Regions from separate parts of the Homo sapiens genome. Here region 1 is linked to region 2. Evidence: fine-mapped expression QTL. A gene starts in region 2. The other region holds a variant in brackets. All regions are shown on one strand. Distances are between the middles of the regions.

Region 1 (8,432 bases), 260 kb before region 2:
CCCCCTCGGAACGCACTGACCCAGGAAGGCCCCAGCTCACACTCCCAGGACTGACGGAGCCTGGCCGGAGGCTGAGCCCTGTTCCCTGCCCTGGGGGAACTACGTTCCCGAGTCACCATGGGTCAGGGGAGGAGCTAAAAAAGGGGCCCTGGGTCCCTCAAGCCTGCATGTGGGGGGCGGGGGTGCCAGGAGCCAGCAAGCACAAGGACCCACTGTGTGTGGGCACTGCTGCCATCTCCTTGGCCTTCCCGGCTGGGGCCCCCTGGGCTCCACAGTGTCACACCCAAGTCCACTCACTGAGTGCCTCAGCAGGCCGACCCCCACCCAGTGAGCTCAGAGGGGCCTCCCCTCCAGCCCCACAAGCCTGTTTTCTCTCACAGACTACAGCCTGGGCCAGGACAAGGGTGCAGGCTGCTCTCTGCCCAAGTGGGCTAAGAACCTGCTAGGAGCTTTGCCCACGTGAGGGGTTCTGGCTGCTGCAGGACCAGAGGGCCAACCTGCATGGGTTTTCCATTTTTATTTATCCAAAGAGGAGAAAGAGGGAGGGGAGGGGGAGGGGGAGGGGGAGGCCTCCTGCCCTGCCCCGGCCCACCTGGTCCCTGTGAGACTCACCTGCCTGTTCCCCGCACCTGCCGCAGGTCCCCTCAGCCCCCTTCCCAGGCCTGCACTCCCCGGAGCACGTGCAGCTGCTGCCCCACAGCGCAAAGGCCCTGTAAGGTCTCTTCCTCCCAAGCCGAGTCTGGTTTAGGGACAAGGCGGTCACGGCAGAGCTGTCCAGGACCATGTGAGGTGGGCTCTGTGTTGGGTGCTCATTTTAAACGGCTGGAACTTTCTGTGACAGGGCCCAGTTGTGGGGCCACCCTGGTGGGCCTTCGTGACACCCAAAAAGTTTGCTGTTGGCTTAATTCAACCAATACCTGTTTGTACACCCAGCAGCTGACCCAGGGCACGGAGCAGAACAGGTGGACACTCAAGCCACAAAAATTAATTAGAGTCATCTGCCAGCTACGGGCTGTCCCAGGGGAAGGGGTTGTACCAGCTGCTCCTCTGGCAGGGCTGCTCCCCCTGCAGGGCTGGTGGAGCCGGCAGAGCCTGAGGTTCAAGCTCCAGTGGGCCCTCAGTCACCTCCTGCCACTGCCTCTGGGATGAGGTGACCTGCGACCCCTACACCCTCCTGAGCCCGGGCTTGGCGGGAACCCAGCCCACCCCACACAGCCCCTCCTCACGGACGCAGACGTGAAAGGCCGTAGGCTGTCTGGGCTCCTGGAGGAATGCGGCCTCCCCTGTGGCCCTGTGCAGAGGGGTCACAGGTGGGCCATATCCATCCTGGGTCCGCCTGCCCAGTCCTTCATGCAGTTGCGCAATGTCTGGTGACAGGCACTCGTACCTCAGGCTGGACGACCGCGCACCCTGCTGGGGCCGTCTATTCACAAAGTGCAGGGCAGTTATGACTGTGCTGGAAAAGCATCAAAAACACCTGCGTGAATTCTGTGTATTAAACCGTGGAGTGTCTGAGCGTGTTACTGAGGTTACACGAAAAGCCCTCCTGTGGTGAGTGAGGCCAGTCAGCATGGAGAACATAGCAGGCTGGAGGCTTTGGGTCTAGGGGTCCCCGTAGAGGAGTGGGGGTCATGGCTGGCAGGAAGTAGGACGGGCTCTGGCTCTCCCTTGTCCGGCCTCGCTGTTCAAGTGCAGCTCTGCCTCTGGTTGTGGGACTCACCTGATGTGCCCTGTCGGCTTCCAGAATGACGCCCAGAGCTGGGCACCTGGCGCTAGACACAGACATGCAAACACACACACACACACACACACACCAGTGTGCCCGCATTCGCACCACGTGCACGATGCATTCGTGGACACACACAGACTCATTCGACACGTGCGCAAATGCACAGGCTCCCCTAACCTCTGCCTGGAACGTCCCCTCTTCGGGGACAGATCTGGGGTGAAAAGGAAGCTGTACTTCCTTGGACAGGGGACAGAGAGCTGGGCCGGGTCCAGGGGGACCTGCAAGTTCTGCAGAGACCCTGAAATATGGTGTCATAATAAAAACCCCATTTAAAGTACTTCTTTTTTTTTATTGATTTCATTGGAAACAGAACAAGAAATGGTCAGAGCCAAAAGACTGCTCTTAAAACTGTCAAAAACATTTTAACAGAAAAAAATAAACATGACTGCATTATGAATGTTTTTAGAAGAGTTGCACAAAAAAAACCCCACTGTTACTGCACTAATTACAGTCTTTAAAAAGGTATATGCCAAAAAAAAGTATATGACCTGCCAGGCCACCACACAAAAGGTGATGGCAAATTTATTCACGCTACAAGACTAACATCTTTAAAAAAGTTTTTCCTGCATTTTATTCTAAAATCACTTTGTTCTCTTTATACAGTTGATAGTTTATTTCACGTGGTGAGTAGAAACCACACCAGAATCAGCACCGTTGTCTGTGTTTTGTTTTTTATTTTGTGTTTGTCCTAATGTTCAGTAATGGTAGAAAATAAATCAGTTTATTCATCATAGCATGTGGCTTAAAAAATCAACAGAAGGTGCCAGCGTCAACGGAACCGGCGGGGGCTGCACCCACCAAGCCACTTCCTCGAAAAGAAACGTCAGTTAGAGGTTTGATATATAGGACTAGATATAGGATTCCTTTAAAAAGCAAACCCACATTTTCTCCAAAGTTAGTGGTGGGGTCGGTCTCCTGACCTCTCCGAGCCTGACAGGAGACTGTGCCCTCCGTGCGGCCCCTGGGACTCGGCCCCAGCCACGCAGGCCGTGGGCAGGGCGAACGGAGCAGCTCGCGCTAACGGTGGCTTCGGCGGCGCCACACAGAAGAGTCTGGGCCGGACAGGAGAACAGAGCAACCCCGTGGTGCAGCGGGGACCTCGGAGGTCAGAGGAAGAAACGAGAAACTTCGCAACGACAAATCAGCATCAGAAACTCAGAAGGTGATGCCAGTGCGGACTCCCAGCGTCTCTGGCGCGCGGACCAAAGTGTGCGCTCCAGCCTGGGCACTGGGCCCGCGGTGAGGCCGCAGGTCTGGGAAGGTGGCTGGGAGGCATCCACACCCGCCCGCAGGGGCTGCAGCCTCACCTCCGACCCCTCCAGGAAGCCGGCGGCGCAGCCCCGAAGGACCCTTTCGGTTGCGTGCGGAATCTCTCCTCCTCGTCCTCTAATCGGCGACGCGGCGGTCCCTGGCTCCCGAGCGCCCCGCTGGCCGGCGGCGTCTCATAGGGGGTCGGCGGCAGCCGCGGAGCTGGTGTCGGGCAAGCCGTCCTCCTGGGCCTCCTGGGCCGCGCTGGCCTGACGCTGGGCCAGGGCCGCGCTCGAGTGCCGGCACTTGGGGGAGCCGCAGCGGCAGCTGAAGAGCTTGCCTTTGATGTCCCAGAAGCGCTCTCCATAGTCAAACCTGGGGAGGGAACAGAACCAAGGCTCCAAGTCGAATCCCACCGGCACCTCCCACAAGCCAGATAAATTAAGGCAAGGCCAAAGCTTCCTCACCCCGATCTGCCGTGCCGCATCCCAGGTCGCAGTTTTTAGAACTACAGGAAAACCACTAGCATAAACCCGAGACAAGCCCAGGAAAGCAATGCGAGCCCCGTTCCTAAAACCGTCCCGCCGGCAGCGGAGATGGCCAGGGGCCGGGGCGGTGCGTACCCGAGCTGCTCGCCGGCCTCGATCAGGCGGGTGCTGAAGAAGGCGATCCGGGGGAACCGCAGGTCCTGGTGGGCCATGAACACGCGCACGGGCACCAGGTTGGGCTCGCAGTGGTGGTTGATGAACCGGCTGACGTTCCCGTAGAACCGCGCGTCGATGCAGTAAACCTCCCCGTCCTGCAGGGCGAGAAGCCGGCACGGGCTGCAGTTAGCAAGGCCCCGACACGCCGGCCTCGCCGGGTACGGCCATGCATGGCAGTCCCGGAGCCTGCAGTTGGGCGCAGGCCCGCCATGCAGGAGGGGCCTTCTCCAGTGACCTGTGGCGGCGGTGCGGAGCCTCCGCCAGCCTTCTCCTCGCTGTGTGGCCACCCACCCCGCACCCTGCCGTCCTCGCTGGGCCTCCGTCTGTGGTGGGGTGGGGGTGGTGCGGGCCGTTCCCTTGACGGCGTCCCCATGGGGCTTCCAGCGCGGTGGAATGTGGACAGCGCCATCCCACCCGAGGACCCATGGGGCTGTCTGGCACCAATAGGAGAAAGGAGGCCGGGGCTGCAAGAGCCCCGTGAGGCAGTGGCAGGGGCTGAGGGGGTCGGGAGGGATGGAGCTGGCATCCGGGACACACTGTCTTGGTGACGAGGAGGCGGAGCAGTCCCCAGAGGGTCTGGGAAGACTCAGTGGCGAATGGCACCAGGGAGGACCGTCAGGCGGAGGCTGCCCACAGAAAACGACTTCTGCTGCAGCCCTTCCGGGTGCTGATGTGACTGTGGAACACGAGGCCGAAGAGACTGAGGCGTCCTCCTCACCCTGGTGCCTTGGAGAGGAGCCCAGGATTCCGGGTGGCCACATGGCCCTGGGCCC[T/A]GGCCCCTGGCACTGGCCTGTGATGATGGATTCTGAATTGACCATAGAGAGGGGGACGAGGTGGGTGGGCCTGACCTAACCACGCAACCCCTTTAAAAGCAATTCTCTCTGGAGACCCAGGGCTTGGAGCTGCTGGGGCCTGGATGGAGGAGCTGCGTGGGAGTAAGGTAGGTGGTCCCGGCCGGCAGCTAGCAAGGAACCTAGACGCTGCCCACGCAACCACAGGGACCTGGGCTCAGCAGCACCCTGCCTGTGCAGCCCGAGGCCCGGCACGCCCAACCCCTGCTGCGCACACTGGGCCGAGTGGGTGGCCGCCATGGCGAGCTGCGGGTGGGTGGCGTGGTTTGTTACCCAGCGACGGGAAGAGGCAACACCACAGACGACAGCCAGGCAGACGGGGAAGGAGGCACCTGGGGCTTTCCAGGACCGAGTTCCGAGAGGGCGGGGCCTGCCGGCAGAGACACCTGGTCCACAACCTGCCCCAGCATGAACATTAACCAGAGAGCCAGGGACGCTCAGAGGTCAAGAGGTTAAAACCCAAACCAACAAGCGGGTAAAGGCGTGGACGAGAGCAGCTCTCCGTCAACCTTCACGGCGCGGGCAGTGACAAGACAGTAAACCAGGCGAGCACGGCCGCAGGACAGGACCAGCCACAGCCCCCAAAGCCAAAGGCGCGGGAAGCTGCCTCCTGGTTTACCCCAAAGAAACAGAGTTCAGAGTGGCTCACCTGGCGTGGACTTTGGCCTCTGCTTCGGGGTCTGATGGACTAAGAATCTATAGGCGACCCCTCCTCGTGCAGAATGCAATTCCGGAACTAGCAACGGCGCACACACGAAGGTCTTGATAAGCAGCAAAATGGAGAGTGAGGGGCTTCCGACTGGAGGGGCCAGGCCCAGCTTTCACCAGGGGCAGCTCGTCTGGCAGAGCACACAGCGCTGCTCCGAGCTTCTAAGATGGGTGGGGTGTCAAAGTCTGTGACACAAATCTCTGCCCGACCAGAACCAGATAAAGACAACAGTCCAGAGAAGGACGGCTGGAGTAAGGCAGATAGGCAACGTGGGAGGCGGGGCCTGCGGAGAGAGCCCAGCCAATCCTAGGACTGGAGAGAAGGCACAGGGGCCACATGGGTGGGTGGGGGGAGGGCCTGCGGAGGGAGCCCAGCCAATCCTAGGACTGGAGCGAGGTGCAGAGGCCGCGTGGGAGGCGGGGCCTGAGGGAGACCAGCCAATCCTAGGATGGGAGCAAAGTGCAGTGGCCACGTGGGAGGCGGGGCCTGTGGAGGGAGCCCAGCCAATTCTAGGACGGGAGCGAGGTGCAGAGGCCACGTGGAAGGCGGGGCCTGTGGAGGGAGCCCAGCCAATTCTAGGACGGGAGCGAGGTGCAGAGGCCACGTGGGAAGCGGGGCCTGAGGAGGGAGCCCAGCCAATCCTAGGACTGGAATGAAGGCACACAGGCCATGTAGGAGGTGGGGCCTGTGGAGGGAGCCTGGCCAATCCTAGGACTGGAGGGAAGGCACAGGGGCCACGTGGGGTTGGGGGGTTCTGCGGAGGGAGCCCAGCCAATCCTAGGACTGGGGCGAAGTGCAGCGGCCACGTAGGAGGCGGAGCCTGTGGAGGGAGCCCAGCCAATCCTAGGACTGGGGCGAAGTGCAGCGGCCACGTAGGAGGCGGAGCCTGTGGAGGGAGCCCAGCCAATCCTAGGACTGGGGCGAAGTGCAGCAGCCACGTAGGAGGCGGAGCCTGTGGAGGGAGCCCAGCCAATCCTAGGACTGAGGCGAAAGCACAGGGACCACTAGAGAGGCCGGGCCTGCAGAAGGGGCCCAGCCAATCGCACTAGGGAAACAAGGCCCACGCAGAAGAGAAACCAGAGTCCTCCCCACATGTTAACAGGAACAACTCAAGGGACCTGACGCTTGAAACACTGAGGAAACGAACACGTCCGAAAGAACACTCAACTGAGTCCAGCCTTGAGATGAACCAGACACTGGGCCAACAGACACGTATTTTCAAGGCAGCTCCTAAGGCTGTCCTCAATGAAGAACAAAGAAAGATTTCAAGGCATGAAAATATCAGAGAAATGAGAAGTCTCAGCGGAGAAACAGAAAAAGAATCCAACGGAAATTCTACATCGAAATTCACTGGCTGCTGAAGCCATCACTGGGTGGATGAACAGAATCTCAGAGATTTGCCTAATGACAGGTAAAGTCAAACAAATTGACTTGTACGCAACATTATTTGAGATAAATAGCAAGGGCTGAAATCAACCTGAATGCCCCAAAAAGAAGGAGAAAGATTTCCATGTACGGACAATATGATGACTCTCCCCAAATCCTGTCGGGAGAAAGGTAAGGGCTCGTGCACTATCTACACTCTACCACTTTTTGTGTAAGAAAAGAGAAGGAATAAGAAATCTACTTGAGTATTTTTTCTCGATTTCTGCTGATGGTTACTGCAGGTGCTACAGTTGGAATGTGTGTGCCCCCCGACCAGACTCACAGGCTGAGACCCCAAGGTTAGGGTGAGGCTTTGGGAAAGCGATTAGGTCATGGGAGTGGAGGGAATTGTGCCCTCATAAAAGGGACCCCAGAGAACTGCTGCACCCCCTCCACCACGTGGGGACACAGTGAGAAGGCACTGGCTACGAACCAGGAAACCCTCCCCAGACACCAGATCTACTAACACCTTCATCTTGGGACTTCCAGCCCCCAGAGCAGTGAGAAATACATTCCTGTTATTTGTAAGCCTCACGGTTTACAGTGTTTTGCTATCACAGCTCGAATGGACTAAGACAGCAGGAAACAGAATACAGAGAACATGGAGAGAAGCAAGGCTTTTCTGGGTGTGAACTTCCCAAGCATGCAAAAATTTTACACAATCAAAAAACAAAAAATTAAATTGTAACATTTAAAATGAACTAAAATTAATGTAACTGCCTATCAAGCCAGTGACACAATCACACAAGCAACATTTCTGGTGCCGCGAAGCACAAGACTGGGCCCAGCTTCCATGGGACATGTTCTAAGGAGTGAGACGCTGCAAAGAAGCGCAGATGCCATCCGGGAGCTGGACTGGTGCTTACTGTTATCGGTAATATCTGGAGTGCTATTTTGAAACTAAAGATTTTAGAAACCAAAATTTTTATTGTAAGAGATGCAAATATAAAATCAAAGAAGTTGGATAAAAACTCTACACTGTTAAATTTGAATTGGAAATATTAACATGAACACATTTTTAAAAATCTATTTACTTCATAACTCTGTCCTCTGAAAAGTGAGTCAAGAGCCCATGGCACCCTGACAGCAGTGGGCACCCCAGAGTCTCATTTCAGTGTCTAAAAATCTTTCTCTTCCAAAAGCACAAGGACATCCTGGAGAAATGGCTGATTCCAAGTGTGGGGCAAGGAACATAAGGGAGGCCTGGGTGTCACATGGTACCGAAGAGCAGTGTCACCAAAGGAGACGGGCTCGCCTGCATGGGCTCCCCATGGCCAAAGATGGGGCAGTTTGACCATTAAATAAGAATGGCTATAACTGATCAAACACACATGTAAAAATGTAAACAAAAAAAAAAAGTAAAAATCCATGAGCCCACATTAACACTCAAAACAGAGGAAAGAAAAAAAAGACCAAAATTTCTTTGCTGCTACTTCCTCCCTCTGAAACTTGATAACTAAATGGTAAGAATAAAGCATTGATCTTGCCTTTCTCTGAGGAGTAACCACAAAGCCCAGGTTTAAGGTTTATTTATTTAAACAGAAGAATGTCTGTTAATAAACAGGGAAGGCATGGATGCTCGGGGTGGCCAGTCGAGGTGGCCATAAAGCTCCCTATGGGACACAGCAGCCCCGGTGTGAGTGTCGCCAAACCTCAGCCCTTCCTCCCAGCTGGCCGCAAACACGGGATAAGAGAACAAGTGAGGT
Region 2 (8,436 bases):
ACATACTCACAGCCCCCGGGCTCTACCCTGGGCACAGCAGAGACAGACTGGTGGTTGAACCTGGAGGTGCCAAAAAAGCCAGCTGCGGGCCCAGGACAGCTGCCGTGAGACTCCCGATGTCACAGGCAGTCTGTGTGGTTACAGCGCCCCTCAGTGTTCATCTCCAGCAGAGACAACGGAGGAGGCTCCCACCAGGACGGTTCTCATTATTTATATGTTAATATGTTTGTAAACTCATGTACAGTTTTTTTTGGGGGGGAGGCAATGGGAAGGGTAGAAATTACAAATAGAATCATTTGCTGTAATCCTTAAATGGCAAACGGTCAGGCCACGTGACTAAAAACTGTCCTGTTGTCGAAGCTTCTCCCCTGGGCCGCCGGGAGCCCCGTGGAGCGCGGCCTGCACGGGAGTTGTGTCCACAAAGGCAAAGTAAAGGGGTGGAATCATCTGGCCTCTCGGACATTCTCTGCTCCGCCTCCCTCTTGTGCTGCTTAGGGTGAGGTCATTTTGAGTGGAGCCGAGTCCTTGTGGGTGAGGCAGGAGGACCCTTGTTCCTGGTGGGCCCTTCTGAGGAGCGGGTGAGCTCAGACCTTCCTGAGTCCAGCAGGGAGTATGAGTGAGACTCTGTCCTTGTCTTGCGGCAGGAGTGGTGGGGTTGCTAAGTCAGCTGCCCGCTGTTTTATGGGGAGTAGGATGCTCTCGCCCCTGACATTGGTTAGTTCTTGCCTGATTTATGCATGAAGTGGCTGGGAGCTCAGCAGTGAGCTTCTGCCCAGAAGAATCCACAGGGCATGTTCAGCAGGCCTGCTGCAGATGGTGGAGGGGGCTGGCCAGCCAGGGTGAGGTGAGGGTCTCACTTCTCCGTCCGTCTGCAGGGCTGTGGTTTCCAGGATAGCCCTCCCTCTCCTTGGGGAGCCCCAGGTGTCTGGGGCTGGTCAGCATCTTGTACCCATAGAGCTGCCCCAGGGAAACATGCCAGGCTGTGTGGCTGGGATCCTGCCTGTCTCCAGGTGCGCCCAGCCAGAGGCCTTGCTTCTTGGGAGCTGGAAGCCTGGCCAGTCCGACTCTGACCTGTCTGGTCTGGTCCGGTCCGACCCTGTGTTGGTCCCACAGGTTGCTGCTACACTTTCCCTTCTTGAAGCTCCACTGCCATGTTCCAGGACACCCTGTGTGTTCTCATTGCTGCCCCTGGCTGGGCTGGCTTTTGTCTGTAAGCAAAACTTCCAGTACCTTTTCTGGCAGTACCCTGGGGGCTCCTGAAGAACAGGACTGCTGAAAATGGGTGATATCAACAAACTCCGCAGGATTTCCTGGAGCTTAGAGAACTGCATGTGCCCACATCAGGCCCTGAGAAGCCCCCTTAGCTGCTGCAAAGGTTGGGGACATTTTTTGCTGAGTAGGTGAAAGCTGCCAGGGAGGGGGACATATGTGTCCCTAGAGATGGCGGGTCAGCAGGTTGGGGTTTGGGGCAGTCTTCAGGCCTGGAGCCCCGAGTGCCCTCAGGCAGCCTGCTTTCAGATAGAGTCTGAGGATGAGCACGGAGTGCAGGGGTCCCCTTTACCTGCATCCAGGGGTGTGGCCATGTTGCCCCTGACCAGCAGGGCTGCTTTGTTTGGCAGTCATTCATCAGAAAAGTGCACTGAAAGAAGCGCCCAGGGCCTCCCACCTGTGAGACACCACGCTGGGGAAGGGGGCGGTGCAGGTTCTAGGTTTGCATGTGGCAGCTCCTCCAGGCCTCACCCCAGCAGGTGGCACCGTGAGGGTGGGACGGGCCCCACCACTGCTTCCCTCTCACCTGATACCCAATCCTCTGGTCATCTTTCCCGTTCCGTGGCCCCGACTTCTTGGTCTTCGTAGCCAGGTATCTAAGACGTCCTGTGAGGACATCCAGATGGCTGCAATGTGGGGCTGCTTCTAAAGCTTGTTTGGAGTGTGGTGTGTTGGGATGCGCACCTGGTCACTCTCCCTCCCCCGCAGAGGTGTGTGGTTGAGGCCCTTTTGGAATGCCCTGCTGCCTTCCTGGCCAGCCTTTTCTGCGCCTCTGTCTCTGTGGTGGTCTGAGCTGTTGGCTCTCTGCCATGTCTTTAGCCACAGCCCTGCTTGAAGCCCTGAGGCTGAATACCCAGGCACCCGTATATTTCAGTCAAGTCCGCCTTAGCTTCCTGGAGCTGCCGCAACAAAGCAGCGCGAGCTGTGCAGCCTGAAGCAGCGGGAATTCACAGTCTAGGCTCTGGAGGCCGGAGTCTCAGATGAAGGCGCAGGCAAGGGCCCTCAGGTGCGGACGCCTCCTCCCTGCCAGGTGCCTTGCCTGCCTCCCTGTGCTCTGCACAGCAATGGCCCTGCAAGTCTTCTGCATCAGCTTTCTCTTCTGCGGACTCCTGCTCCTCTGGGTCAGGGCCCACGCCTGCTGCTTCTGAGAGCCCCTGTTTGTTAAGGATGCTCTCTGAGGTGCTGGGGTCTTCAGTCCATTGTTTTTTGGGGGGCACAGTTCAACCTGTAACGGCCCAAGGGGTTCTTCCTGCCCGCTGCACACATTCAGACCGTGGATTGCAATAAAGAAAAAAAGTTTAGGGCCGGGCGCAGTGGCTCACACCTGTAACCCCAGCACTTTGGGAGGCCGAGGCGGGTGGATCACGAGGTCAGAAGATCGAGACCATCCTGGCTAACACGGTGAAACCCCGTCTCTACTAAAAATACAAAAAATTAGCTGGGCGTGGTGATGCGCGCCTGTAGTCCCAGCTACTGGGGAGGCTGAGGCAGGAGAATGGCTTAAACCCGGGAGGCGGAGCTTGCAGTGAACTGAGATCGCGCCACTGCACTCCAGCCTGGGTGACAGAGCAAGACTCCGTCTCAAAAAAAAAAAACAAAAAAATTAATAGACACGGGCCGGCCAGGCCACATGTGAGATGGAGTTCGTCCTCAGATCATCTTGTCCAAAGCTCCTAGGTTAGGGGTTTTTTCAAAGGCAGTTTTGGGGGAGGGGGGCGGCGGCCAGGCGACTGGTGCTGATAATCATAGGGGTCGGAGCCGTCCACCTGCTGAGCCGCTTCTGGGGGGTCCTGATGCAGCCACGGGTGTCAGACAAGCAAAGACCCTGGAAGGCGGTCTCTGAGGGGCAGCTCCGCCATGGCGGGTTCACAGGAGGCAGGCAGAGCGCGCCTGCGGCCTCGGGGTGCTGGGCTTAGTGGGGCGCGGGCTCCTCATCAGCTTTACGAAGGCGTTGATTCCGGGGCAAGGCCTGTCATGGAAACTGCAGCCTAAATGTTAAGTCAGCGCGGCCCGATGGCCAGGAGTAACCGGGAGGGCGCCACGGGGTGCGCTACCGCAGCTCGCTGTTGGGGTTTTTCTCAGTGATAGAAATTTTGCAGAGGCGGCTTCAAACCTACGGCTCTGTCACTAACTTGCCGTCTCCAAACCTGCTTTGTGGAGGAGCGGATTTCCCGAAGCCTTCGGTCTCTACGGCCCCGCAGGGAGCAGCGCGTCTGACGCCTGAAGCCCGCCGCGGTCAGCCGGCCGACAGGGGGCGTGGGAGCCTGGCTTCCCAGGGGCGTCCACGGAGGCCAAGGCCCTGCCGGATGTCCCGCCCCGGCACCCCGGAAGGAGTCGCGAGAGAGGCGGCCCGCGCTGACGGTGTCCCTGGGGCTCTGCGCTCGTCCGGCCGGCCCCGGCCTCGCCGCCCCGCGCAGTACCCAGCCCGGCCCCGCCGACCCGCCTCTACTGCCGGCTCCGCGCCCTTCCCCGAGGGCTGGATGATGGGCTGTTTCGCCCTGCAAACGGTGGACACCGAGCTGACCGCGGACTCGGTGGAGTGGTGCCCGCTGCAAGGCTGCAGGCACCTGCTGGCGTGCGGGACCTACCAGCTGCGGCGGCCGGAGGACCGGCCTGCCGGCCCCCAGAACAAGGTGCGCGCGCCGCGGCTTCGGGAGGGGAGGGCGGGGCCGGCCACGAGGTTGAGGCCGAAAGGCGCACCGAATCGCCCAGGAGATGAAGAGGGGATATTGGCCCTTTGGCCAGGAGGTAGGCTGGAAACAGTTTAGAATCTTTTTAAAAAAATTGTTCTCGGCCGGGCGCAGTGGCTCACGCCTGTAATCCCAGCACTTTGGGAGGCCGAGGCGGACGGATCACGAGGTCAGGAGATCGAGACCATCCTGGCTAACATGGTGAAACCCCGTCTCTACTAAAAAAATACAAAACAATTAGCCGGGCGTGGTGGCGGCGCCTGTAGTCCCAGCCACTCGGGAGGCTGAGGCAGGAGAATGGCGTGAACCCGGGAGGCAGAGCTTGCAGTGAGCCGAGATCGCACCACTGCATTCCAGCCTGGGCGATACAGCAAGACTACATCTCAAAAAAAAGAAATTACTTTTTTCTGAGACAAGGTCTTGCACTGTCACCCAGGCTGGAGTGCAGCCTCGGACTCCAGGGCTCAGGGCATCCTCCCGCCTCAACCCCCTGAGTAGCTGGCACCACAGGCACGAGCCACCGCCCCCGGCCAACTTTAAAATCTTGAGAGCAGAACGTCTTCTATATACAGGTGTGGCCCAAGGGAATGGGTGGAATGTACAGTAAAGAGAAAGTGGGAATTATATCTTAACTTCTGGTGGGTACATATTAGGATCCAAATTGGGCACTGGAACAACAGGCGTAAGTCAGGACTGTCCCAGGCAAACTGGGTTCTGTGGTTACCCTAGCCATAGCTGGTCCCTGTTGGCCGGTTTAGAAGGAGCCTTCTCTACTGGGTCCAGGAGTGTTCACCTACTCATTAATAGACGTTTCTCCAGCTCAGAAAACCAGAGGTTCTCCTTCCAGGCAGAATTCCACTCCTTTAGTCATGGCAAACCTTTGAGTTCCTTGGATCCCTTTTCCCATCCTTTGGGTTCCTTCGTGTCTTGGGATAATCAGAGACTACCTCTGCATTTTTTGTAGGGTGGAATGGAAGTTAAGGAGCCTCAGGTCCGTTTAGGCCGTCTCTTCCTGTACAGTTTCAATGACAACAACTCTATTCACCCTCTGGTCGAGGTCCAAAGAAAAGATACTTCTGCAATCCTGGACATGAAATGGTATAACTGTGATAATCCCACTGGGTGTAGAATTTGTCATGAGTAGCAATCAGGGAAGCCTGATGCCTGATGCCTTCAACAAGACAGGCATTGCATCTCAACTTTGGATTTGTTTCTTTGCTGTCCCGCCTATCTTCCACCTGGGGAGTGCTTTACCTGGGGCTTATTTCCTTTGTCATGTTCCAGCCGGGGAAGTGATGGGAGTTTTCTGACTTCATAACCTGGGGCGTCTTTTGTTTGAGAACACAGTTGTAGGCTCTAGCCCACTTTTGGAGCTGAGATTTAAATGCAGTGGTGTGTGGCATAATTATGTTTTGGTCAACAATGGAGCACGTATACCATGGTGGTGCCTTAACGTAATGGAGATGCCCTATACAGGTGTACCAGTTTTTATCCTTTTTAATTTTTTTTTTTTTGAGGCAGGGTTTTGTTCCGTTGCCCAGGCTGGAATGCAGTCACGTGATCATAGCTCACTGCAGCCTTGAACTCCTGGGCTCAAGCAATTCTCTGTCTCAGCCTCTCGAGTAGCTGAGACTTCAGACTTCAGGTAGATGCCACCATGCCTCTTTTTTTTTTTTTTGAGACGGAGTCTCGCTCTGTCGCCCGGGCTAGAGTGCAGTGGCGCGGTCTCGGCTCACTGCAAGCTCCGCCTCCTGAGTTCACGCCATTCTCCTGCGTCAGCCTCCCTAAGAGCTCGGTCTACAGGCGCCCGCCACCACACCCGGCTTATTTTTTTGTATTTTTAGTAGAGACGTGGTTTCACCATGTTATTAGGATGGTCTTGATCTCCTGACCTCGTGATCCACCCGCCTCAGCCTCCCAACGTGCTGGGATTACAGGCGTGAGCCACGACGCCTGGCCTTACCACACCTCATTTTTGTTTGTTTGTTAGTTTGTAGAAACAGGGTCTTGCTATGTTGCTCAGGCTGGTTTCGAACTCCTTACCTCAAGTCATCCTCCTACCTCAGCTTCCCAAAGTGTTGGGGTTACAAGTGTGAGCCACCATGCCCGGCCACCTGTTTTTTATCCTTTATATTGTATTCTTACTGTATCTTTTCTATGTTTAGATATACAACCACTTCCTGTTGTGTCACACTTGCCTGCAGTAACATGCTGTAAGGTTTGTGGCATAGGAGCAGTGGGCCATACCATATAATCAAGGTGTGTAGTAGGATGTCCCAGCTGGGTTTGCGTGGACTGCAGCCCCGTTGTTAAGGGAAGCGTGACTGTGGTTACCGGGACGCACAGTGCACGCCTGTGCTCCGGGCACATTGGTGTGCTTATGGTGGGCCCTCTCCTCAGGTGTCACATCCCGGTGGCTGGACATGCCCTCTTGGGCTTGGCAGATGCCAGTGGATCCATACAACTGCTCCGCCTGGTGGAATCTGAGGTCAGTGACTTGCACTTGTTCTGTGGGGCAGAAGGGACCTGAATAGAGAGGGTTGGGGAGGAGGCTGTGCTGATACAGACATTTTTCTAAAACGATCTCTCTTCAATGGTGAGCTATATATAAACGTTCTAAGATAATGTGGAGTCTATTTTTAAGTTGTATTGCGTTCTACATCCAACTCCAAGAGGAAGTCACCTCATGTGTCACCAGCAGAAGGGCTGAAGTGACAGGATGTTCATTGACCTGTCAGTGGATCTGAAAGTTCTCTAAGGAGAGCCTGGGCAAGCATTCTTAGGTTGATGCTGGGGCCCAGAGTAGCAGTGAGCATCCTGTGTGAAGATGGCATTTCTCACTGATTATTGGAAAAGCACGTGAGTCCTGTGTGAATTTTTCCGAGTTTCTCACAGTGCTCTGGAGCCATGCATTAACAAAGTGACTTCATCTGATAGCTGTCGGGGAGGAGAACGGGGATGTCCCGTAGTGGGGTGATGTAAACAGCCTGAAACCACGCCCTCACTCCGATGCAGATGCTGCAGGCGGGGCTGGGCCAACCGAGGGCCTGTGTAGGAAAAGGCCTTGCTTAAGGCAGCTTAGAGCAGTTGCCCTGTCTTAGAAAGGAGGGAAAGAGCAGCCACAGGAAAGCTGTGGGCCCAAGGGAGGAGTGCATGAACCCAGGAAAGGGCTTTGGTACAGCAGCCTGCTGGGAGCAGGGATGGAGTTAAGCACTGGCCAGGCTGTTTAGGAAATGAAATTTATATAGATCTGCATAAAGAGCAACCACGTTCTCATGGCTGCTCGCGGCTTCTGAAGTGGAAACCAGAGGAGTTTCCCCATTGTCTCTGTCTCGGGAGGCGAGTGTTCCAGTGGCCCTGGAGGCCTGGGGTGGGAAACTGTGTGTGCCACTGTGGTCTGGAGCCTGCACAGGCATCTCGACAGCATCTAGGAGCGCAAGGATGGCAAGGGGGTGTGAAAGGGAGGGAGACCATGCCCCAAGATCAAGCCTGTGGGAAAGTTGTCCTGCAAGTGTGAGGAGTGTGAGCTCCAGTGTCCCCAGGTCTTCTCGGGGCCCCTAGCAGGGGTTTCAGTGTTAGGTGGAGGTGTGACTCAGTGACTGATGTACTTCATTCGCATAGGTTGTAAATGAGGGAACGATGACTTCCCTGCAGGAGAGGAAAAGTCTTTTGGGGGTTCTGGGGCGGCTACTTCCCTTTGATGGAGTTTCTTCTTCTCCAGTAGAAGAGCCACGTGCTGGAGCCATTGTCCAGCCTTGCCCTGGAGGAGCAGTGTCTGGCTTTGTCCCTAGATTGGTCCACTGGGAAAACTGGAAGGTAAGGGCCAGGCTTGGTCAGGGGTCCTGAGTCTTTCTCTGAGAACCACTTCCACTTTTCAGGCTAGAGGGCTCCAGCCACCTTCAGCGAGCTGCGACTGTGCTCCTCAGCCCTGACATCATCACTGCCAGTCCTATTATGAAAAAAAGGTCCCCCATTTTAGATACATAGCGATAGTGTTTTTACCTAGAGAAGTCGACACTGGTGTCTTTGACAAGCTTAGCAGTGGTTGTGATCTTAGCCGCCAGTCTCTTAAGGGGCATATCCGCATCCCAGGGCTGTGGAGACCGTCTCTCAGGACTTGTTTGGGAACCAGAAGAGGCTGACGAATAACATTCTGCCGGGCTTCTTCATGGGTTCCCTGTGTCTAGGGCCGGGGACCAGCCCTTGAAGATCATCAGCAGTGACTCCACAGGGCAGCTCCACCTCCTGATGGTGAATGAGACGAGGCCCAGGCTGCAGAAAGTGGCCTCATGGCAGGCACATCAATTCGAGGCCTGGATTGCTGCTTTCAATTACTGGCATCCAGAAATTGTGTATTCAGGTCAGTATTCCTCCACCGGTCACCTCTGATGGAAGGCTTGCTGAGGAAGGGGCGGAGGGAGAGAGGGAGGCCTGTGCCACAGCTGTGATTCCAGTTATGTTGGGATCTTGAAGACCT

What was found.
Region 1: its variant is fine-mapped to the expression of DPH7 in whole blood (TOPMed, PIP 0.98).

The regions. Positions count from the first base shown.
Region 1 is chr9:137,829,753-137,838,184 of GRCh38, reverse strand. It overlaps EHMT1 (euchromatic histone lysine methyltransferase 1), which reads right to left. Exons shown (of 27, transcript NM_024757.5): 26 at 3,661-3,836; 27 at 2,058-3,412. The coding sequence ends at 3,232. Among named protein-coding and RNA genes, the nearest start is that of MIR602, 4.4 kb to the left of the region's middle. The variant T/A (reference allele first, on the strand shown) is at 4,515.
Region 2 is chr9:137,574,091-137,582,526 of GRCh38, reverse strand. It overlaps DPH7 (diphthamide biosynthesis 7), which reads left to right and starts at 3,602. Exons shown (of 9, transcript NM_138778.5): 1 at 3,602-3,902; 2 at 4,924-5,057; 3 at 6,360-6,447; 4 at 7,684-7,775; 5 at 8,147-8,319. The coding sequence starts at 3,750. ZMYND19 (zinc finger MYND-type containing 19) reads left to right here. Exons shown (of 6, transcript NM_138462.3): 6 at 1-446. RefSeq lists enhancers at 3,197-3,256, 2,351-3,322, 6,057-6,866, 6,796-7,090 and a silencer at 3,507-3,916.